Linked DNA regions of Homo sapiens: all the other regions are linked to region 1. Evidence: fine-mapped expression QTL. A gene starts in region 1. Each other region holds a variant in brackets. All regions are shown on one strand. Distances are from middle to middle.

Region 1 (10,605 bases):
TCAGGAAAAGAAAAAACAATGTCTCCAAATTCTTGATCCAATAGAAATTGCATAATCTTAAAAGGAAGAGTCCTGAGAGAATAGCGTGAGGTTGAGAAAAGATCTGAAGTGACAAGATAAGCAATTAATACTGGAATTGCTATTAGTCTGGTAACCTTCAGCAAGTCAGAGTCTCAGTTTCCTCATCTTGTAAAGTAGAAATAATCTAACTGGCATGGCTGGGTAAAGTTTAAGTAGGCCATCAGAAAATACTTTGTAGTCCATAGAGCATTAACTCATCCAGGCCCCTACTCAAAGTACAAAACTGCCCTTTAGCATCACTGACAGCCTCTTCTTGATCACTTCTAGTGATGGGGAACTCATCTTTGGAAGGTCATTTTTGACAGCCCTAATGATAAGAAAGTATATATATAAAGTGTGTGTGTGTTTGTAAAAATACACACATATATTTACATATGTACAATGATATACATACATACACATATATGTATATAGGCATATATATTTAGCCATAATAAATTCCTCCAACATCAGCTTCCTGGTTAATCCTGATCATCAACTCCAGCTCAGAGCTTCATTAAGGGAAGGAACAGGTCAGTGAGAATCTATTCTGTAGGAACAGGAACATGGGAACGTTTGTCACAGAGCTGATGACTGCCCTTGCTGTGTTTTGTTAATAACTGATTTATCTTGCTTATCATGCCTATTCCAGGCAAGTAGAATGAGTTTGCTTTCTCTGAGTTCCAGGGAGGAGGAAGCCAACACAGATGAAAGGGTCCCTGTGCTGTTCAAGAGGGTAGCACTAGCCACACAGCTATTCCATTTTAAATTAAACTAAATTAAAATTTTAGTTCCTCATTTCACAGGCTCAATAGCCATATGTGATTAGTTATTGTGTGGCATAGTTATCAAACATTTCTATTGTAGCAGAAGTTGTTTGAAGAGCTGTGGTTGATGATTCATTACCATCTACAATATGCCAGGGACCAGTTAAACTCTACATGCAAGCACTAAAACATCAATAGTGGAAGTTTTCTATCCCTTGAAAAAATTACATAATAGCATGATTAACTGAGCTCTTACTCCGGACAGTTCAAGAAAAAGGGTGGCTTTTATTCCCAAATGAACATCATAGGCTTCACACTCTTTCCCAACAATCTTAAGAAAGTGGAGATACTATTAATTGGTTACCTATGTTGTTATCAAATGCTCATTTCCACTTACATTTGGAGATCTGAGCTTCTCTCTAAGGCAGAGGTCTTTAAATCATGAGGTGCCACACCCAGATCAGAACTAAACAAAAATTGAAACTTTAAATTGGCAAATGTCATTGCTCATTTCTTCCTAACAAGTGAAGACCTATGGTTAATTCAACTGCAGGTATGGTGAAATAACTACAGTTACTTAGTTAGACACTATTTCTTTCACCACTTATCTGAGCGAAGAAGTCCAGGTTGGATACTATATGTAGAGCTTTATATTAACTTTTCTCCAGGAATAAGAAAGTGTCCACACTGCCGTTTGTCTTGAAAACATAATTAGGGAAGGTGTACCACAAAAGAATGGGATTCTCTCTGAGAGCATGTTTATCTACTGTCACAGCTTTAATTGGGAAGGGTGAAATATCTACATCTGGCTAGGTCTGCTCTTCAAGAGCTGGGGCCAGATATTTGCCATCTCTCAGCCTTGGTCTTTTCTTCTGTAAACAGCAGGATTGGAGTATATGATCAGAAAGGTTTCTGTAATTCCAATGACTTCCCAAAATAACCATGACCTGCATCCTATCTATAAACCTCACATAGTTCTCTCCCTAACCCATGCTGTTGTCACAACCCTCCTACAGTCTTTTTTTTAGGACTTAGTAAATCGTTCTGACAAATAACTGTATTCTACCCATAGGCTTTATCTTACAGTCAGCAAATCATTTGCTAAAGTGCTAAACTGCCAGAGTCATAAGCCCGCATTCTGGAGGGGCTTCCAGCAGTGGTTGGTAAACTACTGCCCAAAGGCCAAATCTGACCCACCTCCTATTTCTGTACATCCAAGAGCTCAGAATAATATTTACATTTTTAAATGGTTGGAAAAATAAAATTAAGCATAATATTTCATGTCATATGAAATTCAAATTTCAGTGTCTATAAATAAAGTTGCATTGGAACCCAGCGACATCCATTCATTTATCTATTGTCTATGGATACTTGTGGCCTACACAGCAGAGTTGAGTGGTATTTGGCCATACCACTATGACTACATAGTCTACATACCACTATGTATGTAGACTCTCTCATACAGAGACTGTATGGCCCACAGGCCTAAAATATTTACTACCTGGCCCTTTACCTGCCCCTGGGTGTAGAGCACAGACTCTAGAGTCAGATGGCTTGGCAGCATAGCTCAGCTCTGTTCTGTTCCTTCCCCTTCCTCAAAACTGTATAATAGGAATGACAATAGTACCTATCCCATGGGTTTTTATTAAGATTAAGCAAATAAGTAAAATGCGATGAGGATCTGGCATATTTTTATTATTATATATATGTCTGATGGTATTATAAGTTGCCACAATTTTTTCCAGCAAACTAAAGTATTAGCAGCTGACCAATTTGTTAGCAATAATTGTAAGAATTGAATTTGCAACACTCCATTAAAATTCAATTCTTTGTCAGATGAGTAGGTAGCGAAAATTTTCTCCCATTTTGTAGGTTGCCTGTTCACTCTGATGGTAGTTTCTTTTGCTGTGCAGAAGCTCTTTAGTTTAATTAGATCCCATTTGTCAATTTTGTCTTTTGTTGCCATTGCTTTTGGTGTTTTGGACATGAAGTCCTTGCCCATGCCTATGTCCTGAATGGTAATGCCTAGGTTTTCTTCTAGGGTTTTTATGGTTTTAGGTCTAACGTTTAAATCTTTAATCCATCTTGAATTGATTTTTGTATAAGGTGTAAGGAAGGGATCCAGTTTTAGCTTCCTACATATGGCTAGCCTGTTTTCCCAGCACCATTTATTAAATAGGGAATCCTTTCCCCATTTCTTCTTTTTGTCAGGTTTGTCAAAGATCAGATAGTTGTAGGTATGCGGCGTTATTTCTGAGGGCTTTGTTCTGTTCCATTGATCTATATCTCTGTTTTGGTACCAGTACCATGCTGTTTTGGTTACTGTAGCCTTGTAGTATAGTTTGAGGGCTAATATCCAGAATCTACAGTGAACTCAAACAAATTTACAAGAAAAAAACAAACAACCCCATCAAAAAGTGGGCGAAGGACATGAACAGACACTTCTCAAAAGAAGACATTTATGCAGCCAAAAAACACATGAAAAAATGCTCATCATCACTGGCCATCAGAGAAATGCAAATCAAAACCACTATGAGATACCATCTCACACCAGTTAGAATGGCAATCATTAAAAAGTCAGGAAACAACAGGTGCTGGAGAGGATGTGGAGAAATAGGAACACTTTTACACTGTTGGTGGGACTGTAAACTAGTTCAACCATTGTGGAAGTCAGTGTGGCGATTCCTCAGGGATCTAGAACTAGAATTACCATTTGACCCGCCATCCCATTACTGGGTATATACCCAAAGGACTATAAATCATGCTGCTATAAAGACACATGCACACGTATGTTTATTGCGGCATTATTCACAATAGCAAAGACTTGGAACCAACCCAAATGTCCAACAATGATAGACTGGATTAAGAAAATGTGGCACATATACACCATGGAATACTATGCAGCCATAAAAAATGATGAGTTCATGTCCTTTGTAGGGACATGGATGAAATTGGAAATCATCATTCTCAGTAAACTATCGCAAGACCAAAAAACCAAACACCGCATATTCTCACTCATAGGTGGGAACTGAACGATGAGATCACATGGACACAGGAAGGGGAATATCACACTCTAGGGACTGTGGTGGGGTGGGGGGAGGGGAGAGGGATAGCATTGGGAGATATACCTAATGCTAGATGACGAGTTAGTGGGTGCAGCGCACCAGCATGGCACATGTATACATATGTAACCAACCTGCACAATGTTCACATGTACCCTAAAACTTAAAGTGTAATTAAAAAAAAAATTCAATTCTTTAGCAGTAAAGCAGTGGGAAGATGTCTAAGGACAACTGATATGCCAATTCGTATAGCCGTTTATCCACGAAGCTAATTCTGCAGTACTTAAAAATATTTTATATGCTTTATACTTCTTTCAAACTTGAGTCTTGAGCTTGTACTCAACATCGAGTTCGGCCCTGACATCTACTCTTTATAGTCGGTTACCTCTTTCTGAAGAAACAGGCTTCCAAAGAGAGACCAGGGGACTCATTAGATGTCTCATCTACCTTGATGATTGCTACCTTGATGATTGAAAACAGTAACCTGCTTCCTGAATCAAACACAAAACAGGCAACATGCAGTGTCTTTGCTATGCCACAACAGGGACTATTAGAATTTTTCTCACAATTCGGACTTTGGTTTTCAAAAGGGCTTGCGAGGGAAGTTACACACAAGAGAAAAACAATGAACCGAATGAGGACAATAGCCCACGAATTTAGAATGGAGGAAGCCCGTCCACCACAGCGAAAAAGCACAGTACCACATTGGCGGGTGCTCCAATATTTGTGAAATGTTGATGACCCTTTAAATGTTTCTGTGCAACCTCCACAACAAATACTGTGAATCTTGCTTATTAATGCGTTTCTCAATACGTTAAAATTCAGGAAATCATTAAGTCTAGTCCTTAACAGTGAAGGGCAAGCAATTTTCTGTCATTGAAATTACACAAAACAAAACAAAAAGCTCACGCCTGAATTGCTTCGGACTATTCAACTGGAAGATAGAAAAATATATGAAGTAAAGAAGAATAACCTACATAGAAGTTCCTATCTCTTATCTTCCTGAATACTTACCAGTACACTATTAGTTTGTTCTAAACTTTTCTTATATAAAAAGTAGCTGAATACTTTTAGGGAAATGGATTGTTTTGTCTGAATCATCCAGATAATTCAAACAATTCATTTTCCTAAGAACGATATGTGTGAGTCTGTCCTGCCCGGAAAATGCCCTCTGTCCTACTCAGGACACAAGTCACGCTCAGCTTAAACAGGCAAGGAATTGTCCCCTAGGAAGGAAATACGCCGTTGTCGTTCAGTGAACTCTGCAACCAACAGCAAGCCAAACTCTCCCTTGCACACAGTTCGTCAAGTTAATTCTTATTTTCCAAGGGCGCTTTCGTATTTCCATCTTTCAAAGACTCCTTCACCCACTGGCACCTAAGGCTTGCCCTAACGCATCCAGCCCCTGCCTCGCGATGGTGCGCTCCGCTTATAATAGCTCCGTCCTGTCCAATAAAGTTGTTTAAAATAAGAAATGTGCCAGATAATAGCCAAGTCCGAAGGAAAAAAAAAAAAAAAGAATTCCTGGGGTGGTGTATTGGTGTTGGAATGTGCCATTAGTTTTGGAGGGAGGAAAGTCCCTGGTGTGAATTGCCTCGCAGGTCGTAGGCCGCCACTGGACCTTCAGTCGTGCACTGCATTAGCGCCGTAATGGCAAAGATACGAAGAAGCGCGCAGGCAGGGGAGCCACGGCCGCGCGCACAGGCAAGAGCTGGAGACGACTGCGGAGCGCGTCCCCCACGCCCGCGTGGTGCGCTCTGGGGCGGCCCCCTAGCGGCAGGGCGGGGCGGGGCAGGGGGCGGAGAGGCCTGGCGCACAGGGCGAGGGCGGCTGCGGCGCAGTCTGCAGCATGGCGTACCCGGGGCATCCTGGCGCCGGCGGCGGGTACTACCCAGGCGGGGTAAGTGCTGACTGCGCGGGATCGCGGCCCAGGCGGCTCCGGGGCGCTAAGAGGCCACCTTGGAGATGCTGCGGCCAGCGGGGTGAGGCGCTGCTGGGCGGCTACCCGGGCTCCTTCCGCCCTCGGCTTCTCCCTGCGCTCGCGGCCTCGCCCTAGGCCCCTGGGGTTCGGCCTCTCCCCACGTTTCCCCGTCCCTTCTCCTGGATGGCCCTGCGGGGCCAAGGTGAGGGTGGATTGGGACCCTAGAAGCCCACCCTGCGGCTTCTCGGATACGCGGCGTGAAATCGTGTTAATTGGGTGTTGGCTGACCCCCACCCCACCCCACCCCCGCCTTCTTGGTTGCCTCCCAGAGCAACAACAGTCATTTTATTCTAGAATGATATACCTTCCTCCCTTTAAAAAACAAACAAACAAACAAACAAACAAACAAACAAAAAACGAGTGAGAAGGGGGACGGAAAAAAAGGGAAAACCTGCTGAAGTAAAAGACCTGTAGGAAGGCAGCCTCGCCGGGCGTCTGGGATGCGCGTTGTCTTGGGAACTGTTTCCGAGACAGGCAATGTTCCCTCGCCACCCACGAGATACAGCCCGGCCGGACACCTTACTCTTCCCTAGGCTACACCCGTCTCAGAATGTTACCAACTCCAGCCTTCCATCGTTCATAAAACGCTCTTAAAATACCATAAATGCTGTAACAACAAAAGGAGAATTTGAAGCCCTGCCATTCGTTGGCTTACCTAGTTTGCACTCACCTCAGTAACCTTCAGGTTAATAGGGATTTTAAAAGTTGCTTTACATATGTAGACATCACTTTCACAGCAACTCTTTATGGTCTAAGTCGCCAGTTTTTAAATTACGGGGTGTGAATGGAAGAGAGGGGTGGAGTGTTGGCAGAGTGTGCCCGGTGGTGGGGAGGTGAGCCTTGTGAAGGGCGGGCAGGCGGGCAGTTGTCTGGCCTTGCACAAAAGCCCTCAGTGGTGAAAGAAGAAAACTTGATTCGGCAGAATGACGTGTATGTGTTTCCTGTTTCACAGTATGGAGGGGCTCCCGGAGGGCCTGCGTTTCCCGGACAAACTCAGGATCCGCTGTATGGTTACTTTGCTGCTGTAGCTGGACAGGTTAGCTTTTCCCTTTAATATTAAAGAGCCGTTATTGTCTGCATTTGTGGTAGCTTTTGATATAGTGACACAGAAAAGCGAACTTCCTGTGGTACTGAGTCCCTTTGCTTCTGCAAAAGAAAAAAAAAGTTGTTTCTTATTTTAGTTTTTTATTTCTGAATGTTCAGAATAAATGAGGACAAAGTGTTACTCGTATTTATGTGAGTTCAGTTCGAAAGCAAACTTGTGGTTGAATTAAAGGGTCCAGGATGGTTTCAAGCGAAAAAATTCAAGATCTGGTAAATATAAACGCTTGTTTGTACAACTTAAAGACATATATTAGTAATTACATAGCTCGATTCTAATGGGCACTTTCTTTGGGTTGAACTTGATTGCTAATCATTCACCCCCTTAGGAAATATGGTAAAAACCCACCAGCTTCTAAATAAGGAAGTTACTGTTCCCTTCTTAGTATCAGAAAGTTAATCTTGTGAACAGTGTAGTTTCTCTTTGATGCAGATGCTGTTACTAGGTCAGCCCCTCCATGTCCTTATTAGGTGTTCTGGCCTGTTGACCCAGAGAAGCAATTAAGGTCAGCTCCCCAAGACCTTTCACTTGTCTGCATTCTGAGTTGTATGACAGGTGCTATCTTACATTGACAGGTGCTATCTTACATTGAGAGAGGACACTTCCCTAGTTCATGAGGTCACTGTGTGCAGTAAATATACTGTTGGTATAACCCAGACACGTCCAGAGGAGATGTTTGTTCTTATGAATTCAACCTAGTTTTGTTTTGACCAAAAGCTAGAAATAGCAAAATCTTAATGTGAAAACTGTAGAATATTATGGGATAAAAAACCTAAGACCACTTTTAAGGTAGTACTCTAAGAAATACAGCTTAAGAAATTGAATGGAAAATATAGTCTAAAACTGGAAGACCTTCCCCTTAAGTATCTACTTAAACTGTTAATGATCTGTATCTTTGAAACCACAAGGCATGGCAAACCTCAAGACTAGCATTCTTAGATTGCCAGTGCCTCCAGCATGTAAGTGACTCCACCTGCTTAGCTTTCAGCAGCCCTGGCCTGTATTCAGCATACCCATTGTCTTTCAAATTGCTGATCTTGCTCCTCATTTATAACTTATAATACCCAGTGACTTGAAGATTTAGGTATTTTATTTTAAAGTCCCTAAAAATCACATATATCTAGTTCTTTCCCAGTTCAGCCAGTGAATGGGCACTGGGAACCTAATGTGAATCTTCCAGATGTATTTGTGCTCTGAAAAAAATGATTCACTATATCATAAGAAAAAGTGACCAAGGAGGCCTTTTTCTGTTTGAACCAAGCCTTCTATTTATTGATGTCTGCTTTGTACCTTGCTCTCTCCACCCCCATCAAAAAAAAATATTTTAAAATGTTTAGCTGTAGCAGTTTGCTAGCTCAGATTGAGAGAAGAGTAGTTGCCAAGACAGACTCTTTCTTTCATCATTAAATTACTTTTGGAAGTGGGTTAAGGAAAAGAATGCCCACTTTTGGAAGGCATTCCTTTTAATAAAAAAAAGGCATTCCTTTTAAATAAAAAAAAGATACTGATTTTCTTTGTTGTTATTGCTTCATTGAATGCTGAAGGTAAACAACTTGAAAGTACAAATCACTATTATGATTCCTCTAATTTTTTTTCAAAAGGATGGGCAGATAGATGCTGATGAATTGCAGAGATGTCTGACACAGTCTGGCATTGCTGGAGGATACAAACGTAAGTTGACAGTCCCAAAGTTTGTCTAAATATACTCTTGTGTTTCCTATCTTAGCTGTTACTTGTGATTACAGCCTTCAAGAAAACTGAGCTTGTCGGATCTAGCAAAGTTTAGAATTCCGAAAGCTAAAATACAGTACTATTTCAAAATGTTGATTTGAAAACAGTTTTTAAATCACTCCAGGCTGGGCACAGTGGCTCACACCTGTAATCCCAGTACTTCAGAGGCCCAGGCAGGAGGATCGCTTGAAGCCAAGAGTTTTTGGCTGCAGTAATCTATGATTGTACCACTGCACTCCAGCCTGAGCAACAGAGCAAGACCTTGTCTTTAAAATAATAATAATAATAAATTATTCCATCCTACCTGCCAATCTAGTGGATTTCTCAGATTTGGGTTTTGTGTACCTAGAACCAGTGAGACAGTTTGGGTGGCCTCCTTCACAGAGGACAAGGTAGGGTGCTGAAATGGAATCTGCCAGGTCAGGGGTCATTAACTGACATTAGGAACTGATATTTACTGTTATTTGCCAAGAGCCTACTCTGCCCTGACCTGGTGGCACTTAGGGCTTTGAGTTGCTGCCCTGCACCCCTGGTCCCTGAGTGGCCTATCCTGCACTCCTGGTCTCTGAGCTTTGGGCATGCTCCTGCTAACATAAGTGGTTGCCATGACATCCCTCAGGTCTTTCCTCTTCCACTTCATAGAATGTATTCAGGCTAAGTGGGAAGTGGCCTTTCTACTTACTGGACCTGCTGCTCCATAATTCAGCCCTTACCCTACCCCTGCCTTTTGAACACTCTGCCATGAGCTGAGAGTAATGAAATACTGCAAAGATGCTCCATCCCTGGCAGGGCACAGTGGCTCACACCTGTAATCCCAGCACTTTAGGAGACTGAGGTGGGAGGATTGCTTGAGCCCGGGAGTTCAAGACTAGCCTGGGCAACATAGTGAAACCTTGTCTCTGCAAAAAATTTAAAAATTAGCCAGGCATGGTGGCATGCACCTGTGGTCCCAGCTACTCAGGAGGCTGAGGTGGGAGGATTATACAAGCCCAGGAGGCGGAGGTTGCAGTGAGCCAAGATTGTGCCACTGCACTCCAGCCTGGGTGACAGCCTGTCTCAGAAAATCCAAAAAATTGCTGCATCCCAACTGGGGGCTTCTCATCATCCAACACATATGAAGTGGTTCCTCTTGAAATTAGATCTTGAACATGATAGATTTCCAGGGTAGAGAATAATGTCTTAGTTCAAATACATTACCAACTTCTTTGCCAGTTGTTAATTGAGACAAAACATCAAATTGAAGACCCAATTTCATGGTTAGCTGTGGATTAAAATGTTCAAACTAGAATTCACAGCTGTGAATTTATAGTGGCCTTTTTTTAAAAACTATTTGACATGGCATGTATTAGATGGCTGTCTTTGAACTCTTTGCATTTGTTTTCATTATCCTTTGTTTTATGTGACTTTAGTATCCTATTACTCTTTCCTAATTAGAGGAATTAATACAAACGAAGAACCTTTCAAGTTCCTGTTATTTAATCTAGTCCTAAACAAAATAAGCACTTTTTGGATTAGGGGATGTTATTCTTTACTGTGTAGGCAGTACATTTAAATTGTTAATTGTTACGCAATTGAGCTGGTAAACAAGGTAGGCCTGCCTATTAGCAGGGTTTATCAAAGTGCAGTGAGATCACAGCATGGCCTGTTATTCTACATCCTTTCAGTAGATGAGGTGTGGCAGATTTTAGAATCTGACTAACAAAATGGGTTGTATATTGTTAGAGAGCAGTCCTTTTAAAATTTCATTGAGAAAGCCACATTTAGTGATGGCCTTAGATCAATGCATTAAAGAGAAAGCATTTCCTGAATCATGGGGCCTATGTGATTGAATCCATTTGCCTACTCTCTGGTGGCCGTACTGAACCACAGAACCATCCTGCCTATGAGGTGTCAGTGTTTTGT
Region 2 (10,605 bases), 180 kb before region 1:
TTAGGAGCATTTTTTAAACGTATTGTTACTGTCTTTAGTCATGTATAAGCTGGAGGGAGAGTGAAAGAAGAGGAATGGATATTTCTAATCACCTAATGTTTTGTGTTTTTATACCAATAACTTATAATATATGAGGAAATAGTATTTCCTGACATAAAATATTTGGACTTTCACACAACATAATTTAGCTAGATCATCCATGCCAAAAGTGGCACAAAGTATCTTTTACTTTTCTTTCTTAGGTTAGTTTTATCAAGGTATAATTTACATACAATAAAATGCAACTACATTATATGTACAAGTTCTATGAGTTTTGATAAACGTGTACAACCATGTAACCAACTAATCAACCCTGCAACCTAGATATAGAGCATTTCCATCCCACCAAAAGCTCATTCATACTCTCTTGCAATCAATCTCCCATTCCCCAGCCCCAGGCTACCACTAATCCACTCTTGTTATAGATTAGTTTTATCTATTCTACAATTTCATATAAATAGAGTCAGACAGCATGTACATTGTATGTCTGGTTACTTCTACTCAACATAATATTGTTAAGATTCATCCATGCTATTGTACGTAATGGTGGTTTATTCCTTTCCATTGGTGAGTGGCCTTCTATTATATGATACACCACAATTTGTTTATCCATTCATCTATCGATAGGCATTTGGGTTGTTACAAGATATTTCTTAGTGGCACATTGTTATTGCTATTAGCACAGCTGTGTGTGCACATACATGTGTGCATGTTGTACTGTAATGTGGTGTGTTTGGGGAGAGTTGGGGGGTGTGTAAAATGTGGTGTGTTTGGTTGTATATATGCTGGAGGGAGAGTGAAAGAAGACTTAATATGCACCAAGCTCTAACATGGTGGTGCCTGGATGATCACCCCTGACTCCCTTCTAAGATGGTCACTGGAGGGCATGACTAGTGAGTCAAAGACCACTAGAGCTTCTTCCCTGCCTCTAACTGGTCTTTCATGAAGACTATTTGAAAGGGAAAAAAGGATAGTTTTCCATAAAGGAATCTCGCCAAGGACCTGAAGATGCTAACAAGGTGGACTGCTGACTCTGGTGAAATTTTGTTTTTTTCTGAGACTCTTCAAAGTGAGAGTTCACAAATTTATTGGGCCTCTGTACTAGTTTCCTAGAGCTGCCATAACAAATTACCACAAACTGGGTGGCTTAAAACAATAGATAGTATTTGTTTTCTATATTAGATAGTATTTATGCATTAGTTCTATAGGACAGAAGTCTAAAATCAAGGTGTTGGCAGGGATGCACTCTCTAGAGGGAGTTCCATTCCTTGCCTCCTTTAACCTGTGGCAGCTGTCCTTAGCTGTGGCTGCAGCCCCCTCTGCTCCAAATTCACCTTATCTTCTCCTCTATGTGTCTCCTCCTCTATGTGTCTGTGTCATCTCCCTTTGCTCCTCTAAGGACATATATGGTGGCATTTAGGGCCCACCCACATAATGCAGAGTTGTCTCCTCATCTCAAGATTTTTAACTTAATGACATCTACAAAGACCCTTTTTCCAAACAAAATAATATCCAAAGTTCCAGGGATCAGGACTTGATAACTTTGGATGAGCATTATTCAACCTGCCACAGCCTCATCCATTCTCTTCTGTCTTGCCCAAGTCCTTGGTCTACCTGAGGCTCAATGTTCTCATATACAAAATATGACAGTATCATATAGTTCTTTATCCATCAACCAGTTAGATTTCAAGTTTACCTGTTTGTAGTCCAAAATGACAGAGAAAGGATTAATCTTGCAGGCATCAATGCATTTCTACAACATGAGAGTATGAGTTTATTCCTTTAAAGTTTTAAATTCAGCTATTTTCTTCTTTGCTGTCATATGTCTTTATTAATTTATTCAATAAATATTTATTCACCAGTCTTTCCCTGGAACACTTTGAGATACTAAACAAAGCCCCTGTCCTTATGGAGCTAATATTCTGAAGAAGAAGACAATCTCTAAGTAAATGTGCTATCAGGCAGTAGAGAAGGATAGGGAAGGAAGAAAAGCCAATAAAAGGGTTTATTACTGAACTAAGTGCTGTAGCACCAGGGGCTCGATTTGACCAGGACTCACAGGAATGATTTAAGAATTGTCTACTAGGCCGGGTGTGGTGGCTCATGTCTGTAATCCCAGCACTTTGGGAAGCCGAGGTGGGCGGATCACGACATCGGGAGTTCAAGACCAGCCTGGCCAACATGGTGAAACCCTGTCTCTACTAAAAATACAAAAATTAGCTGGGTGTGGTGGCAGGAGCCTGTAATCCCAGCTGTTCGGGAGGCTGAGGCAGCAGAATTGCTTGAACCCAGGAGGCAGAGGTTGCAGTGAGCCAAGATCACGCCACTGCACTCCAGCCTGGGTGACAAAACAAGACTCCATCTAGGAAAAAAAAAAAAATAATAATAATAATAATAATAATAATAATAATTGTCTACTGAAAGGACAAGAAGATTTATCCATAGGCTCCTCCCAACATCGGTTGAGGGTTGCCTTCAATACATTAACTTCCCAGTACCCAAGAGGGCTGCATTTGGATGTGGTCTGAGTGAGCTTCTATAACTCCAGAGAAGGCCCTGAAGCAGAATACAATGCACTCTTGAGGGGTGACACTGGTATGTGATAGATGTCTGTGCCTGCACAGAACTGTACACTATGGCTGCAGCTAACATCAAAAGCAGGCCAGGGGGACGTGATGGGGGCACCATCATGCTATAAACACCTTACCAACATTTGCCACATTCTCTCTGTCTTTGCACTTACTGTACATAACACAGTTAATAAAACAGTCATGCGCTGCATAAAGGACCTTTCAGTCAACAATGAACAGCATATATGGTGGTCTCACAAGATTATAATGGGGCTGAAAAATTCCTATCACCTAGTGACATTGTATCCATTATAACATTACAGCATTCTTGGTGACACTGGTGTAAAGAAGCCCATTGTGTTGCCAGTCATATAAAAGTATACTACATACAATTACATATAGTACATAATACTTGATAATAATAAACAACTGTGTTACTGGTTTATGTACTTACTATACTTATTATTAGAAAGTATACTCCTTTTACATATATACATACATATATATGTATGTATATGTGTATATATACATGTATATGCATGTATATACGTGCATATATACATATATACATGTGTATATACATACATGCATGCATGTAGATATACACGTGTATATCTACATGCACATGTATGTATACATATATGCATAGCTACATACACATGTATATACATGCATGTGGATATGCATACACATGTGTATCTGCATACATGTGTGTAGATATGCATGTGCATGTGTATCTACATATACATACGCATGTATATATACATACACATGTAGATATACATACACATGTATACCTACATACATGTATGTATATACGCATGTATATATGTATATACGTGCATATATACATATGTGTATATATGCACATATATACATGCATATATATATACATATATGTATATATACACATACGTGTGTGTGTATGTGTGTGTGTATATGTGTGTGTGTGTGTGTGTATATATATTTGAGACAAAATCTCGCTCTGTCACCCAGGCTGGAGTGCAGTGGTATGATCTCGGCTCACTACAACCTCTGTCTCCTGAGTTCAAGCAATTCTCCTACCTCAGCCTCCCAAGTAGCTGGGATTATAGGTGCCCACCACCACACCCAGCTAATTTGCATTTTTAGTAGAGATGGGGTTTCACCAAGTTAGCCAGGCTGGTCTCGAACTCCTGACCTCAGGTGATCTGCCACCCTTGGCCTCCCAAAGTGCTGAGATTACAGGCATGAGCCTCTGCGCCTAGCCTACTTATATTTTTAAAAAGTTAACTGTAGAACAGCCTCAGTCAGGTCCTTCAGGAGGTATTCCAGAAAAAGACGTTATTATCATAAGAGATGACAGCTCCATGCCTGTTGTTGTCCCTGAAGATCCTCCAGTGGGACAAGACATAGAGGTAGAAGACAGTGTTATCAATGATCCTGACCCTGGGTAGACGTAGGTTAATGTATATGTTTGTGTCTTAATTTTTAACAAAAGTAATTAAAGAAAATTTTAGGAAAAAGGCTTATAGCATAAATATATTTTAAAAGATAATATTTTTGTACAGCTGTACAATGTGTTTGTGTTTTAAGTTATATTATTACAAAACGGTCAAAAAGTTGAAAATTAAAAGTGTATAAACTAGAAAAGTTACAGTAAGTTAAGGTTAATTTATTATTAATTAAAGATAATATTTTTATAAATGTAGTGTAGCTTGAGTGTACAGCATTTATAAAATCTACAGTAGTGTACAGTAATGTCCTAGGCCTTCACTCACCACTCAGTCACTGACTCACTCAGAGAAACTTCAAGTACTGCAAGCTCCATTCATGGTAAGTGCTCCACACAGGCATACTAGCTTTTATTTTCTATACCATATTTTGACTGTACCTTTTCTATGTTTAGATGCACAAATACTTACCATTGTATTACAACTGCCTGCACTATTCAGTACAGTAACAAGTTTGTAGCCTAGGAGCAATAGACTATACCCTCTAGCCTAGGTGTGTGGTAAGCTGTACCATCTAGGTTTGTGTAAGTACCCTCCATGATGTTCGCAATTTGATGAAATGGACTAACGAGGTATTTCTCAGAATGTATAACCATTATTAAGTGAAGCATGACTGTACTTGTGAAATACTTAAAACTAACACAAATGTTATGTATACAATTGATTATGAGCAAACTACAGAGGCCCAGAGCGGCTACCAACCATATGCAACCACTATCGCCATCTGTTGGTAGCAAACAGAATTGATAGATTTTTATTCTGCAGAGGAACTGTATGGATTAGGAAACATTTGTAATCTGAATATACTGAAGCAAAGGAATGTCTGTAATTCTTACTTCACAGAGTTTCTGTGAGGGGTAAATGCTATAATTCACAGGAAAGCACTTTTCTATTATAAAACAATATATAAATGTTAGTTTACAGATTGATGGGAGAGATTTAATCCTCATCTCTGATGCCAGATTAAGTCTTAGTGCATTGTAGCCAGATACCTAGCAGGTAATCTAAAGTTTATGGAATGTTGTTTTTATTTTTTGACTTCTGCTGAAACAGCCTTTCCAGGTTTTCACCTGCTAAGATTCAAAGTCCAGTTCGGCTGTCACCCAAGAATAGAAATCATTTTTTTCCTCACATTCTCTTTGCATTGGCACTAAGAGACCACTTACCACATGAATTCTGGCTAATCATAAACAATTCTCTGGCCTCACTCAATAGTGAACCTCTTGAAAACAAGAACGATACCTGATTCCTCTTTGTATGCCTAGCACGTAGCATTATATTTGGTGTATAGTAGGCATTCGATAAATGTTTGTTGAAATTGTTGAATTAATTTGCTATCAAATAACAACAGCCTCTTTCCTACTTAGCTGTGTCTCACAGCAAGCACCCGGGCCCAGCAGGGTGAAAGAGATGAAGGGAATTCATCTAAAATCAATTTATTTGGGGAGAAAATGTACTGTAGTCAATGAAATGATTCAGTTTCATCTTTTTGTACATAGCTTTAGAGTTGTACATGATCATAATTTCATGTCAACTATCAAGTCCCTTAAGTCATGTGGTGATATATTACTTTTTCATATTAATATATAGTATAACACTGTACAAGCAATATTAACAATTCCGCACGAACTAAATCCTGGCATAGAAAGTGACAGTACTAGCAGTTCACTGGGTAATGGCTAGGTTTTGTGCAGTTTGGAAAAAAAAAAAAAACTCCTACAGATTTATAGATACTTACAAAATGCCTATGTTCATAAAATTATCAATTTTAAGAAAAAGAAAGACATCTCTTCCAAGAGAAAAACAGATGACTCATTTTGAAATCGGTAGGCTCCATTCCAATTAAACAGATTGCAAACCAGAAGACAGCTCAAGATTGTTGTGAGGACTTCATGAGGCCCTTTCCTTTCTTTTCCGAAACTAATGAGAAATACTCAGGATATGTGAAGCCATGAATCAGAAAAATATGCAAACCTGGCTGGGTGATAACTCCCCTGAACTGGATGAACTGGAGAAAGGCCTTATTGAAATGAAGCATCCAAATGGA[C/T]TGGAACAATGCCTCAGTGTGGTTAGTTCAATAGAGCCACGCTATAGATCATGCTTTCTTACCAGGAGATGAAAACAACTGCCAAGTAGGATTCAGAAAACCAAAAAGAAAAAAAAAAAAAAAAAAGCTTTTTTCTCCCTTGAAGTTCAGCAGTGGTTCGCTCCGCACAGATATCTGGGGTTTGACACTAGCTAGTTTACAATACCATTTTAATACAAGCAATATGAATGCTTAAAGAGTTACCCCACCCAGGACAAACCAGCTGGTCTTCTAGTCACTGCTCTCCCACTTCTGTGCCTTTATCTGCCACTTGGAGTCTGAGGTCCTCTGCTAAGGAGAGGGCAATTGCAAAGCCCCTCTGCACTTTGCTCACCATACTCTATCTCCCAAACCCTTCTACAAAATGTGCTAGCCTTGTTCACACCCTCAGCCCCTCAAACCCACAGCTCTCTCCCTGCACATACTATTTTCAAGCTAGTGTCTGGGCTAATATGCCACTGCCTCCAAGGTAACATTTCTTCTGAATAGAGGTTTTTCTGGTGACCATCCTTAGAGGCATTCTAATGGTGAAGACTGCCAGCTCCATGGCAAGCCAATGAGGAAGATACTATCTGACCTCATTAGCACCTCACAGGTCACACCGTAAGCAGCTTATCACTCCCCCTCTCCCAGGGGAAGCCTTCTTTGTCGACCAAAAGAAAAAAAAAAAAAAGAACCATAAAGGTTCTCGGGTCTTGATGACCTTCCAAACGCACTTCGGGTAGCCGCTCGAACAGGAATCCCCGGCTCCTGGTCCCCACGAGTCTCTTTATCACTTTTATCCCACAGTCCTTGTAACCCATTCATAAGAAAACAGTGAAGCAGCTCCTGAAAACTTGGAAATAAGGTTGCAGTCAAGAGCTAGCCAGTAAAATTCACACAATAATTTTGTTTGGGTTTTTGTTTGTTTGCTTTCCACAAAGTAGCATCTGAAATTATTTGGGGACAAAGGATATATACTTCCCTGTTTTCCCAGAAGAATAAAGGAATTTATTTTCTTGTAAATGGAACTATGTGGAAAGTTACCCCACGTTGAAAAATAATAGAGTTGGAAGAGAGTATCTTTTTTTCTCTCCTTGCAATTCCTTTAGGAGCTGTACCTCACTCACAGCCATGATCTGTTCTCTACAGCCATCTATTTATCATTTATCTTCTTTCTCTCCAACTGCTTCTGCTTTCTTCATGTCATCCTTTAAAATTCCTGGAAAATGTTGGACAGGAAACAGACTTCTGGGATTAAGAAGAACAACCATGCTTTTTTATAGAATATTTGCTCAGGCCCAGGATCCCTTCCACAAAAGACTCTGGCTGTCCTTTGCTAGTGGTTAGAAAAATTCTGAGGAGAATATCCACAAACATGTAACTGAAGAGTCTTAAAGTACCCCAGACTCAAACACAGAGAAATAATTATCCTCCAAAGGAAAAGACTATGTAATTGAAGTCTACTAAACTGAAATTAACTGATTGCATTCTAACATCTCAGGAGAAAGACTATAAATAGAAGGCAGAGTCAACATAAACATGAAAGGAAAAAATGAAACCTGAGTAATTCCTGAGACCTTAAGGTGGTACTGTTTACCCAGCACTTTCCAGGTGAGGCTTACTCTGCATGTGACCCAAAGGAGCATATATAGTTACGTGGGTAGTGGAAATGAACTCATCAAGCCTCACTTTTGAATGGCCTGAAATACTCTCTTCCTCTCTGAATTCATGATCCCAAGCATTTTTTGATAAAGTTGAAATTGGTAGGTCCCTCAATACCAGAAAAATCAATGCTCTGGATAAGGGCACCAGCATTCCATCATTGGAAAAAGTTATCACCCCTTGGGTACTAATAAATTACTCATAAGGATTATACATCTTTTCACACGTTTGATTAGTTTCCATCTATTACTGTGATACTCTGTGTCCACCTAGTTCAAAGCCGAAGACCATACCTTGGTAACTTCCTCAACAAACAACAAGGGTTAACGTATAATGTGTCCTTTCCACATACCAGACATTTTCTAAGCAATTTATATGCATTAACATATTTTAGCCTCACAATAATCCTACATGGTAGAAGTAGAAATTATTTTTACCCCCATTTTACAGATGAGGAAAATGGGGAACTTGCTTATGATTATACAGATGGTAGGTGGCAGAGTCTGTGCCCTTAAGCCTTACACAATGCTGCCTTTTAAAGTGGCATGCGCCCTGGAGAGCACGAATTAATTTGCTAGGGCTGCTACGACAAAATGTCATAGATTGGGTGGCTTAAACAACAGACATGTATAGTTCCAGGGATTGGAAAATCCAAAATCAAGGTGCCAACCTATGAGCTTCCTGGTGAGGCCCTCTTGTTCACTTGCAAATGGCCACCTTCTCACTCTATCCTCACATGGCAGACAGAGAGCTCTCTTTCTTCCTCTTCTCATAAAGCCACTAATGCCATCATAAAGGCCCTACCCTCCAAGGCCTCATCTAACCCTAATTACCTCCCAAAGTTCCCATCTCCACATATCATCACACTGAGGGTCAGGGCTTCAATACATTAATTGGATGGGGGTGTGGTGATGGGGACACAATTGAGTCCACAGCAGGGAGAAATGTGAAAACTCCCATGTGATCATAATAGTCATTCAGCACAAACTGTTAAACAAGTGTCTATGCTCTAATCAGCATTGCACACATAATATGAGTTCATCTCCAGGTCTGATTATTCTTGTCATGCAAAAAGCCCATCTCTAGGCTTTTATAATGTTAGGAAAATCCTGTAATTAGTCACCTGAACAAAGTTATTACTGAGTGAAAGTCTGCCTGTACCAAACAGCTTCCCATAGGTGACAGTTGTGGTTTCTAGGGTGAAATCCATCAACCAAACTCTTCAACCCCCTTGTATATTAATAATTAAACACATTTTATTATCTATAAGTGCAAACAGGACATACAAAGTTCTGATGGCAACTTCCAATTTCTGTTCACTAAGGAATTGAGGAGGCCTCTCAGTCACAGTCATCACAAAAATATTGTATTCTCTGCTCAGTTCTATAGTCCTCTTCTTTCAAGTCTGGTGATCATGTGTACCCTATGTAAGTCCTATTTTGATATTTCTAGCATATTGCACAAAATGTTTCATTGTCACTCATGCACTGCTTACAGTAAAATCATTAAGCACTAGGTATTAACCACTGATTCTTACTTTGTTTTCCTCCATCATGTTCTGTGAGACACTGACTTCGTCCTCTACTTGCTAAAGGAAAAGTCTGAATGAGTCAGTGACCTTCCTTTCTCCAAGTAACCTCATACGTTGGGTCTTTGTTCTCTCTGCTATGATAAACATCAGTATTCTTCATATTTTGACAATATCATAGTATTTTTACTCTTTTTGCCAGAAATGTTACTTCCTGTTTAGCATCAAAACTGAAAATACCTTCTTCCACATGGTAAAGCCCCTGAATATTTGCAAGTGACATCATTAGCCAACCCTCTGCCTGTAACACCCACCACCATCCCACATCCTGCCATTAGGGGCAATATGGCTTAATAAATTTCATTACTATATGTGTTAATATAAGTTTTATAAATAAGTTTTCTGTATCTCAAAGAAAATGTGTTAGACTTATTAATAACTTCATTCCTAGTATTGTGAGGCTACTTAGGTATGTGTTCTCACAACAACACATTGTTTTCAGACTTAGTCGAGCAACTTACTTTTGTTTTTTATATGTTTTAATTCACCATTTTTTAAATTTTTCTAGACAGAGCTTTTGATTTCCACATTTCACTTTTCAGTGGTTATCTCTGTTAACTTTCTTCCTGCTTTGGAGTGTAATATTTTGCTACTTCCTCAGGATTCAGCCACAGCACAGATCTGACCTGTCCATCGCCCATGTCTTCCTTTCTGAATCAGCTGTTGTTTCTTAAACTCATCGATTGCATCAATACCCTATTTCTCAAATACATATCTGCAACGTAGCTATATGTCAAGTCTATTTTGTCACTGCCACAATTTGGTCATTTCGCAACTGATTTAGACCTAAACAGTGTCATTCATTTTGCAGAAGCATGAGGCTGTGGCAGTTTTTTGTAACAAAAACAACACTGCTTACTGGTTAAAAAAAAAAATAATAGATTATAAAATATTGTTTCCTTTTTCTTGACTCTAATAATGCTTTTTAAAAAAACTGAAAATCAACTATCATAAATTTAACTATGTATTTTCTTAATTAAATGCGTTCATCCTTTTTGGTTTAAGTAATTGATGAGCAACTTTATTCCAAATTTCTAGTTTTCACAATATCTGCTCCCATAATCATACATTACTATGCTCACTCTAATGATTGACTTTATTAATAAAATACAATATCACCCAGACCTTGGTTTCCAAATATCTTTCCCCACTAAAAGGAACCAGGGGTCCTTGGAGAAATGGTTA
Region 3 (10,332 bases), 22 kb after region 1:
TTTGCTTTGGCTCAGCCGAGTTACTGTTTCAGTGTTCATCTAAATGACTTATTATATGACTAAAATATTATAAATGCAAGAAATGGAGCTATGTGTAATCACCATAAACTTTTAAAATCTCATACTAAATGTACAAACCCTTCATCAGTGACTTCCTTCTCTTTTTCTCACATTAAAACAATACCTTGACTACTTATAACTTATTAACTATGCAGCCTATGAACAGATGGCAAGGACCCCGCAAATGCCAGAATAATGACGGGTAGGTAAAATGCCTGCCTGGAAGATGAAAAAGCCAGGGTGGAACAGTTTTTAGGCAATGAACTCATGAGCCCATCCTAGGCTCAGTGCTTTAGAATGCAGCACAGGTGACCTTATTAACTAAGCACCACTGCCTGGTCTACAGGACAGGATATAGGAAATTGATCCTCATTAGGGTGAGAGAGGAAGTGCTTACAAGGAGAGGCAAATAGATAAATAAGTAAACTACCTCTGCCATCCAGATGAGGAAACTGCAACAAATCGAGCACTCAGGCTTTGCTAAAGGGTTGTATTTCTCATCATGTTAGTGACCCCTTCTGGGACACCAGTGAACAGGAAAGAAACAATCCCTTGACTGTACCCCTAACAAAGCTTCTGAAAGAGAAACTAGCTGGGAGAAAAAGAAGAGTCGTGCATCAAAATAACATAAATCTTTTATTGAAAGTCACTTTACTAATGTTACAATGGGAGTAACATAGAAAACCATGGTATCTTATTAGCTTCCGAAGTGAATACTAATAAAACTGTGCCAGAAATTTGAACCTTAAGTTACAGTGACCTTTAAAAACATCAAGATTTTGTTTACCTACAATGTAAGAACAATTTTATAACTTGAACAGCCATAAAACAAATCACACTTGCTCAGGAAAGCAGTTGCCATATACATTTCCATTGGTGTTTGCCATAACCCCAGTAATTATTAAAATAGCTTAACGAACCTGAAGTGCAGAGTAGCAGAGAAATGTTAAAATAATGCGAATCTAAGTATATACACATGATTACCTGATTACCAAAAGTGAAACCATGCTGCTATTAACACCTCCTCATGGGGTGGCTTCCACTATCTATAGATGCACATCACCTGTCAAAGGTGATAACCGTGGAAAACACTAGTGCCGACCTACTGCTGGCTAACATGTAAGCTACTATGTTTAGGTAAAACACCCCGTTTCTGAAAGAAGTTGTCTTTTGGGGGTGCTAGTTTGGAGGGGCAAGTCTTCCAGCAAGTTAAAAAAGGAGTACATGCTTATCTATCCTGAATAAGCCTTTTTTTAAAGCAGTTTTGCAGTTAGTGTAAAAAAAAAAGTTTTCCATACAAAACAAAGGTGTTGAGTCATTTTTGCCCTTTAAAAAGACTGGTTGTAGAATCAGAGTTTGATTTTGTGCTGGATTAGAAAAGAAAAGTGGGGTTTCTAGTCAGGCAGTGATACACATATATAATTTAGCAGGAACTTTTGTATTATTACTAAGTATTCATATCAGCATTTTCTGTATTGTGTTACTTGTTCAACTTAGCACCGCTATATTTAAAGATTGGGGCTATTTGCATTATTTTAGAGCTTAGCCATCCAACACAAATCACAGCCTGAAAATTCATAAAATAAGAGGCTAAGCCCTAAGGTGAATGCAGATCAGAATATTATATATATATAACATTTTTTACAAGAAAGGAAAATACCTTTTCTTCATAAACTCTTTGAAACTTTATTGATGATTCTGTATGTGCATTATCTTAAGAATTCGTCTCATTGTATGCCTTTTTGTAAAACAAAACCAAAAACACACATATTGCCTGGTTTTGATTTCAAGGATACGTAGGAACATGGAATGATGATTACTTGATGAAAAGCCTGCCAGCCTTGAAGCTTCCCCATATGATACAGGTTTTATGAACAGTGCAACAGGGATGCATCAGGCAGGAGTGACTGGCCTATTATGGACTGGACCACAAAGTATTCAGAGTCAACACTCAGTCAATCTGCCAAGCACAGAAGTCTGTCTTAGGCATCCAGCACCTCTCTTCCCACCACACCCCTTGTGACAATGTGTGCTCTCCTGCATATCTGGCCTCAGGAATCTTCCTGTGAATATCCATTCTGTGTCTATGCCAGGACTAAATGCCCCATGGTCTCCCAAAGTTCTCTGCTTCTTATCTCCTCCCCATCCTGAAATTCAGGCTTTTAGGACTCATCTCCCAGTGACTTCCTAAGTTGCATAAGCTGCTAATGTGCCAGTGGGTGAAGATAAAGATGCCTGCCACCTCTACTCCCTAGAGCATCCTAGGGATATAAAGGACAAAAGTACTAATTAGGTTTTTGGTTTTGAATGTTTTGTTTTTCTGCTTACAAACAACCAGAAGTTGCTCCATTTGCGGGACTAACAAAGCAATGAATAAAATGTCAGTAGAAACACTCCTGTTTTCTAAAGTCCTGCTGCATCTTTGTTCTGCATCCGCAGATGTGGGAGAAAAGCTCCTCTTGGAATTAAAAGCACCTCCCCCACAGAGCATATGCTATGAGCATGTGCCAACAATTCCCAGCAGGTGTACTTTTAACAGCGGGGCTACTCACACACAGCTGGGATGGGCTGCTGCCGCTCAGCCAATTTTCACAAGAGCAGACTGGGCCCCTCATTATATTATACTATCAATGGGAAACTGTTTATCAAAGTCCTTAGTTCTTCCATGCCAGGAGAAAAGTTGCTGCATCCAAAACCAGAGTAGTCTTATCCATTCAAAAACATCTCAGGAGGAAAACAAAACATTTGAGCCCCAAATTAAGCCCTATTCCACGGAAGTGTTTACTTCTTATACATCTTAAACTGTAGAGCAAGAATGAGAAATTTATCTTGACTCCATACATTTAACGGAGTGGAAAGGTATTTAGGTGGCAGTTTTAGAAAAAAACATAAAAGTGAAAGGAAAAATATAATTAGGTGCATAAAAAGTAGATATGATGCTGCAAATGGCAGTCAAGTGTTTCATGGAAAATTCATGCCAACTTACCAACTGGTAGGGTGATATTTACAACACGCTGCCCATGTGGGCATCCAGTGGCAGCAGCCAGATGTGTCCTATCAGACTGTGCAGGCAGCTGTCTTGTCCCTCCTCGCTCCTGCCAGTTCCTAACTTGGCTCTCCCCTTCCATATACTCTACAAGCTACTCAATATCCTGCCAATAAATTCTCTTTCCTTTAAGTAAAATAAAGTAAAATAATCTTTTCTTTAGATAAGAATTTATTATTGTGTTAAATAATAACATAAGAAAATATTTAAAGTACTATATATATGGTTAGAACTATACGACAATAGGAAATGAATGGATAAAATGAATAAATGAACAAACCTTATTTTAAAACACTGAAAAAAGTGAATAAAAATACCATATATCTTCTGGTCCGAAGGTAACTGTAAAACATAAAGAACAAAATCCCAAAAAAGGTAACAGGTAAAGTAGCCACAAGAGATCTGGGACAATAGACAGGATTAAATTATGTAGATATGCAAGGGAATCAATAGAAAAGAAATGTAAGCCTGTTATGAAATTCAAACATAAATAGTCCTTCTCTGAAAGTGCAGAGAATATCCAATTTTGTCTTTCTGACAACTTCTTTAGAAATCCTATTAATGTTACTTTCAGAAATTCTATGCCAGACTGACCTTATATACAAACACAATTTTAAAATTCTTTTTAAAGTAACAGGGAAAAGAGAGAGAAACTATGGTATCACTTAATAAAGCACCAATATCAAAGTGAAAAATAAGTTGGCATTTTAAACCCACATTTGCTTTATTCATCAACATTTTTTAAAGGAACAACTCTAATGATAGGTTATTCCTAATCGAAGCTCCGGGTGTCTTGTTAAAAATACAGCAACCACAGCAAATTGAAAGCCCTCACCATGTTGCACTGTCCGATGTATTCCTTTCCACAGATTGCATGTGCCCTGGGGATCATTTCCAGCCTGCAGCGTTCAGAGGACCATGCCACTTCCCATCTAAATAAAGAGTGGCTGGAGGACAGTTCATGTGGCCAGTCCACTCCATAAGGACTCTCTTCTATCCCATGCCTTCCTGTTCACACTTACTGGAGAGACTTAAATGTTCCTTTAAATCAGGGTTTACTGCACTGCAATGACTATGGATAAATGGAACTTCTCAGGCAGCAGGGTGCCAATCTGTAGTCTTATCAATGCATAAAACTGGAAGAGGGGAAAAAGGCATACAATGGAACATAAAGGCCAAATAACTGCTCTCTTCTGCTTAGCAATGATTTTGTAGTGGATTGGGAAATATAAATATTAGTTGCATGATATAAACTGTGATACGGCCTCAAAGTTTCTCTCCAAAATAGATATTTAAAGAGAAATAATGCTGTGCTTGTATATTTAATGCTACCTACCTCGGTGGATGAAAAGTCATAAATATTTAGATGTAATGCCTCTAGAACCCCAACCATGAGTATACATATAGATACTTCTTGAAACTCTCCCTTGAGACTATAAATTTGTCAATGAATCCCACAAATGGCTCTAAGAATGTTTAAACATGGGAGATAGAGTAGATTCCAAGAATAGAACATTAAAGTTACTGTATACCTCAAATCATAATCTCTACAAATAAAACAAAAATTTTTA[G/T]TCAGTTCCACAGGAAGGTTATTACCAAGGCGGGTAATTACAAACTATATACCTCTAGAGAAACCATGTCTCCCAAAAGGCACATGATCATGATTTTCATTTGAAATAATAATTTCATGTAAAAATAGGTGAGGGAAGAAAGACACACAGACGAATGATAGAGATCTGTTAACTTCTCAGCTAGCCATTTGTGGATTCTTTCAAATTAGAGTTTGTGTACCTGTAACTAGGAAGCATATTTACATGAGGCACCTTATATTCAAATCTATAAACTCTTTTATAGTCAAAATAAACCTTATAGCATTAGCCTTTTGTACACTCAGTACCAGGAAACATTCAGTGCACGTTACAGTGATCTTGGTAAAAAGTCACTTTATTTGCTACATCTTTCAATCTGTCTGCCCTTCTGTTCTTGGCTTGAGCTATGTGGCAACACTGCCCAACACTCACCCAAACCTTGGCCTGATGGATCGCTTTATGGTCATATCAACAATCACATCCCTTCCTGTCATGAAAAATGCTGTTTTACATTATGTAATTTTGGATCATTAAATTGCTTTCCAAACATTTCAAAGACTTTCAAAAGAGAGGTCCATTACAGAAGACATAAACACACAGTATAAAATGCTGCCTTCTAACTCGGCCCTTCAGTTTGGGCATGATATGTAATCAAATTGATTACATATGAAGATGATATGGATTTTGTCCATGGATACTATGGGAGAGGATCAAATTTAAGAGAGTATATCTGAAAACCTGTCTGCAGATTCCATTCCTCTTAAGAACACACAGCAAATGAGGAAATCAGAAGTATACTTCAGAGCAGACCATGTGATTGAGCCCATCAATCTCCAGCCTCACTAGGGTAGCTAGCTTTCTTTTGGAATGACAGATCTGCCATTATAACAGCTATCAAACTTTGGTTTTAAAGAAGGGTCTTTTAAAATAGAATCTTATTTTCCTATGGATTAAAAATATATGTTTCAAAGCATCAGATTCTTTCCCCCACCAGCTGTTAGTGTAACTTCGCAGATGCTGCATCTCTGTGGTTTAGATCTAACTTAACCCTTTATGAATGGTTGAAGCTGCTCAACTCAAACAGTAGAATCTTCCGTCATCTTGCTTCAGAGTCAGTGCAGAATGACTTGTTGGGATTCACATCCCAGTGATGACAAATATTCTTAATCAACAGTGTCAAAGTTGTTTTTGTTAAAACAAGTCATTCATTTCACAGATAAGGGTGACTACAAAGTTTTGCCAAGGAACAAAACTTCAGGCCACAAAGGGTTAGAGTATTGGCAAACCAGAAGCTACCAGCTCACTGGCAGTACGTTGTCTCATGTGTCTTTGGTGCACTTGCTTAATCTCAGCAGCACACACTGCTGAGGGGCTGGCTCACTGGGATGAGATGGGATGGACGGATGGGATAGATGATTTCCAGGGAGCAGCCCATCGGCAGCAGAGTGGGCTCCTGCATCAGCAAACTGTGGAGGCCAGAAGTTTTGCTGGGCATTTTGTTCTCTCACTCAACTACTCACTCAATAAAACTGCCTCCAGACTGTGCACAGGTTAAAGGGATATCACATGTTTTGGACAAATACGAATTATGGAGAGACACATTTACAGCATTGACCACTATATTTACATTACCTGCTTATAGTCTTTGAAGATCACTGGATGGATGACGATGATGTGATTGTGACGGAATTTTTAGGCATTTGGCAAAATACACTTGTGTGTAACAGCTGCATTTTTTTAAAATTTTAAAAATGTTACATATATACAATTGTCCTTGTATGCTAATATAAATATGAAAAGTAAAAAACAAAACAAAAATAAAAATACATGTTTAAAGTTAGCCTATGGGATATTGGCCTTTCAAAGCTTTAAAGTCCTGCAGAAAAATCCTATATGCCTTAGCCCTGCATGCTCATTTCTATTATGGGATGTTGTTTCCTTAAATATGGAAAACAATAAACAGAAGCTTCATGCATATAGCATTACTGTTTACAGTGAGGATGTGCCTCAGAACGTCAAGTTCTGAATCCACTATTGTACCTTAGGAAACTTGCTACATTTGGGTCATGTGAGTTAACTTTATGAATATTTCTACATATTATCTGTCATGCGGATTATCCATTAACATACCAGTACCTTTATTGTTCCATGTTATAGTGTAATATTTCAGTAGTTCTTTTCATGGTTAGTTAAATCCTAAGCCAATGACAAAAAGAAAATGGTAACCAGATGTGAAACTCCGCTTCCTCTCCTCTGTAGCATCTCAGAGGGTCTTCGTATTGTCTGAAGAGCAGATAGATTTGCAGTGATTCCATGAGCCTGGGTTTCTATAAAAGTTGAAGTAAACAGTTTTCGATGTATCACATGTAAACAGTTGATCTTAAATGGATGTCTCCCATAGCTGCACAACAGAAAAGAGCAAAATTGCACATTGTGAAAGCAGGAAGCAGATGTATTCTGAATAGGAGATGAAAAAGATTCAGTGATTCCATCCATATATATGTGATTGTGGATGCACACTCTTGCAAAGTCTAAAAAGTGGATAGAATAAACACTCCAACTTTTAGCTCTCTGTTTCCTCAAAACCTGTGTCTCAACCTTTTTAACAGCAGCCATCTTTTGATACAAAAACCATCACATCCTCATTTAATGTTACTAAACATTTTGAATAGAGTCAATATTGTGTCTCAAATGAAATAAAAGAATTTAAAATATTATTTTTTAAGCTACACATGCCCTTCCTTTCCCCAGGATTCTGAGACAGCCAGCTAGAGCAGTGGTTCTCAACCTCAGCTGCACATTACATTAATCTGGGGAGGTTTCTACAATTCCACTTCCCAGGCACCACACCAGACCAACTAAATCAAAATCTCTCTGGGTGGGACTCAGGCGTAAGAATATTTTAAAAGCTTTGCAGATGATTCCCTTGTGCAGCCACGACAGAAAACCACTGACATCAGGGAAGTGTGATTCCATCAATTCCACCATCACCCACTTGAAAATCACTGCCATACACTCCACTTCTATCACTACCTCCTTAAAAAATAGTTCTCTCAGCCGGGCGTGGTGGCTCACGCCTGTAATCCCAGCACTTTGGGAGGCCGAGATGGGCAGATCACGAGGTCAGGAGATCGAGACCATCCTGCATAACACGGTGAAACCCCGTCTTTACTAAAAATACAAAAAAAATTAGCCGGGCGTGGTGGCGGGCACCTGTAGTCCCAGCTACTCGGGAGGCTGAGGCAGGAGAATGGCGTGAACCCGGGAGGCGGAGCTTGCAGTGAGCCGAGATCGCGACATTGCACTATAGCCTGGGCGACTGAGCGAGACTCCATCTCAAATAAAATAAAATAAAATAAAATAAATAAAAGGTTCTCTCTCACAAGCTGAGGTATCACAGTGGAAGGATACATTCAAGGCAGGATGTCCCTTCATTCATTCTGTCCCTCTTACCCTCTCCTTGCTTTTGCCATGAGCTCTTTATATTGGCCCTGTTCCGGTCAAATTTCTACAATGTTCAGCAATCACCTTAATGGACTAATAACAAGTGTGACATGATCAGATATGAATGCAACTCAGTTCACCAGAAAAGGAAGACCAATTTAAAAAGAAGATCAAGCTGATGAAATATGTTTCCAGGCAATAGAATTTAGATATAATTATTATAAACATAAACAAATAAAGCCTATGAACACAGTGACTTAGGTTGTATCCAATTCCATCCAAATTCCATTTTTACTGGACATTTGGTGCATGTCGCTGTATATATAATGAGTTTCTGGGAAAGAAAAAGGAGAAAAAGCCAAGTGAGTAAGTAGATGTTTCTATATAGGTTCCCTTAATATGTTCTCCCAAATCTTCATGGAAATCTTGTTCTGAATGCCCATGTCTGCCTACTCCACAGGACTGTGGTAAAGCCACCATGCTATCTACCTTAGGTCATTTTATATGCCCTTTTTATTGAAAAGACACCAACCCCTTGTAAACCACAGGAATATCTGAACTGTGAGGATCTTCGTGAATGGGTGACACTGGTGGTGGAGAGGAGTTAAATGGGGCTTGTGGTGGGTCTGGAGCAAAGACGATCTGAACTGATGCTCAGATAATGGTCTGGAGGGCTAAAGGGATTAGACTCTGGCCTCAGAGAGCTGAAGTTTCCTCAATATTGTTTTATAAAGATTAAAAATAATATGTGACAGGAGAAAGAAGGGAGGGACAAATGAACAACATTGGGAAAAACCTGAATGTCATGATTACTCCAGTGAGAAAAAATGAGCAATTGCCAAACATCACTTTCAGCACTAGGCATGCCTTGGCCCACGTCTATGTGGTGGTAACAGAGGGGCTGCTGATAGGAAGATCTGCTTGTTCCACTCTCCACAGCCCACAGAGACAGCCCAGAGACAGGGGCTGTGTATTTGGTAGGATTCTGCCACATGCTTATGTGGCTGTTCCACAGTGCATAGAACAAATCAGACTTTTCAGGTAACAATCCCAGCAGCCAGAGCCTTTGTGGTCACCTGCTCAGCCCAGGGCCAGTCATTTTTTCTAGGGAGCTATCATTTTTACAGGCTCTTGTGTGGTAACATCTCCAATAACCCAAACTCTGACATGACAACAGCTGAGGGAATGTCCCTAACTTGATGGAACAAAACAGGGATGCAGACAATTTAGCAGAAAGTGGGTTGCTACACTTAGACAATTATTTGAGGAGGGCAGGAATGACCTCAGTCTCAGATTTCATTATCACACATGACATCATGAACAACTAGGTATCTATCAAGAAGTCTTTTGTTAATTCAGAAAGCTGAGTGCTGGGAATCTGAATTGTCTTGTTATCTTTTACCATTTCTCATATTAACATATAATGGTAATTTTTTATGATTAACAAAACACTGCTGGTAGTTTTTAAAGACTTTTGGATTATAGTGATCTACACAGCTTTTAATTATTTGTGCCTTCTTACTGACTCTGAGTTAAAATTAAAATTTGAATGATCCACGTTTACCTTGAATCACATAATTTAGGTTTGGGATCAAAGAGATTCCGAAACATCTCTGAAGACCAAAGAGTCTAACCAGCAGCTAAAGCTGCCGAGGCTTATAAGCTTTATTTTATTTTTTTGCAACATTATTTCTAAGAAGATGAACATTACAGTGTAAATGACCACAACAGAGCCTGGACATCAATAAAGGTAATTATTCTTTGGTTACATCTTTCACTTAAGTCTCTGAGGACCAGTCTGCCTCTCTAAGCTCCACTGTATCTCGAATTTCACATACTGATATGTTTCAGGAATGTTGTGAGACAGTGGCAGTGTGATTAAAATGTAAAAGGTGATATAGCAAAATACACTGTTTTGTTTACTGTAGGTTTTAATAAATTAGCTACAATAATTAAATATATAGCAATTAATTACACAAAATGTACCTAGACTGTATCAATGCAGATTAAACTATTTGCAAATATAAATCTGAAGCCAAAAGTCTCAAGAATCTCCTTATTTTCAAGTTTGATTTTTTCATTTTCTTAGGAACAAGGGAGGAAAAATGGTTCTCTCTTTTAAAATATAAACTCATAGATAAATGATAATGACTGAGCATGTACGCACATGGAAGAGGTTTCCACATACCCTGG

The links. PIP is the estimated chance that this variant, and not a neighbour inherited with it, causes the effect.
Region 2: its variant is fine-mapped to the expression of SRI in lung (TOPMed, PIP above 0.99).
Region 3: its variant is fine-mapped to the expression of SRI in whole blood (TOPMed, PIP 0.93).

What each region holds. Positions count from the first base shown.
Region 1 is chr7:88,215,160-88,225,764 of GRCh38, reverse strand. SRI (sorcin) reads left to right here and starts at 5,727. Exons shown (of 8, transcript NM_003130.4): 1 at 5,727-5,789; 2 at 6,823-6,906; 3 at 8,574-8,643. The coding sequence starts at 5,739. SRI-AS1 (SRI antisense RNA 1) reads right to left here and starts at 9,105. Exons shown (of 3, transcript NR_120517.1): 1 at 9,008-9,105; 2 at 6,541-7,016. It overlaps LOC124901691 (a long non-coding RNA gene), which reads left to right and starts at 9,181. Exons shown (of 2, transcript XR_007060419.1): 1 at 9,181-9,322. RefSeq lists silencers at 5,505-6,004, 6,652-6,741.
Region 2 is chr7:88,395,422-88,406,026 of GRCh38, reverse strand. No RefSeq gene overlaps it. Among named protein-coding and RNA genes, the nearest start is that of STEAP4, 94 kb to the right of the region's middle. The variant C/T (reference allele first, on the strand shown) is at 6,150.
Region 3 is chr7:88,193,235-88,203,566 of GRCh38, reverse strand. It overlaps ADAM22 (ADAM metallopeptidase domain 22), which reads right to left. Exons shown (of 32, transcript NM_001324418.2): 31 at 10,328-10,332; 32 at 678-7,096. The coding sequence ends at 7,076. Among named protein-coding and RNA genes, the nearest start is that of SRI-AS1, 18 kb to the left of the region's middle. The variant G/T (reference allele first, on the strand shown) is at 4,678.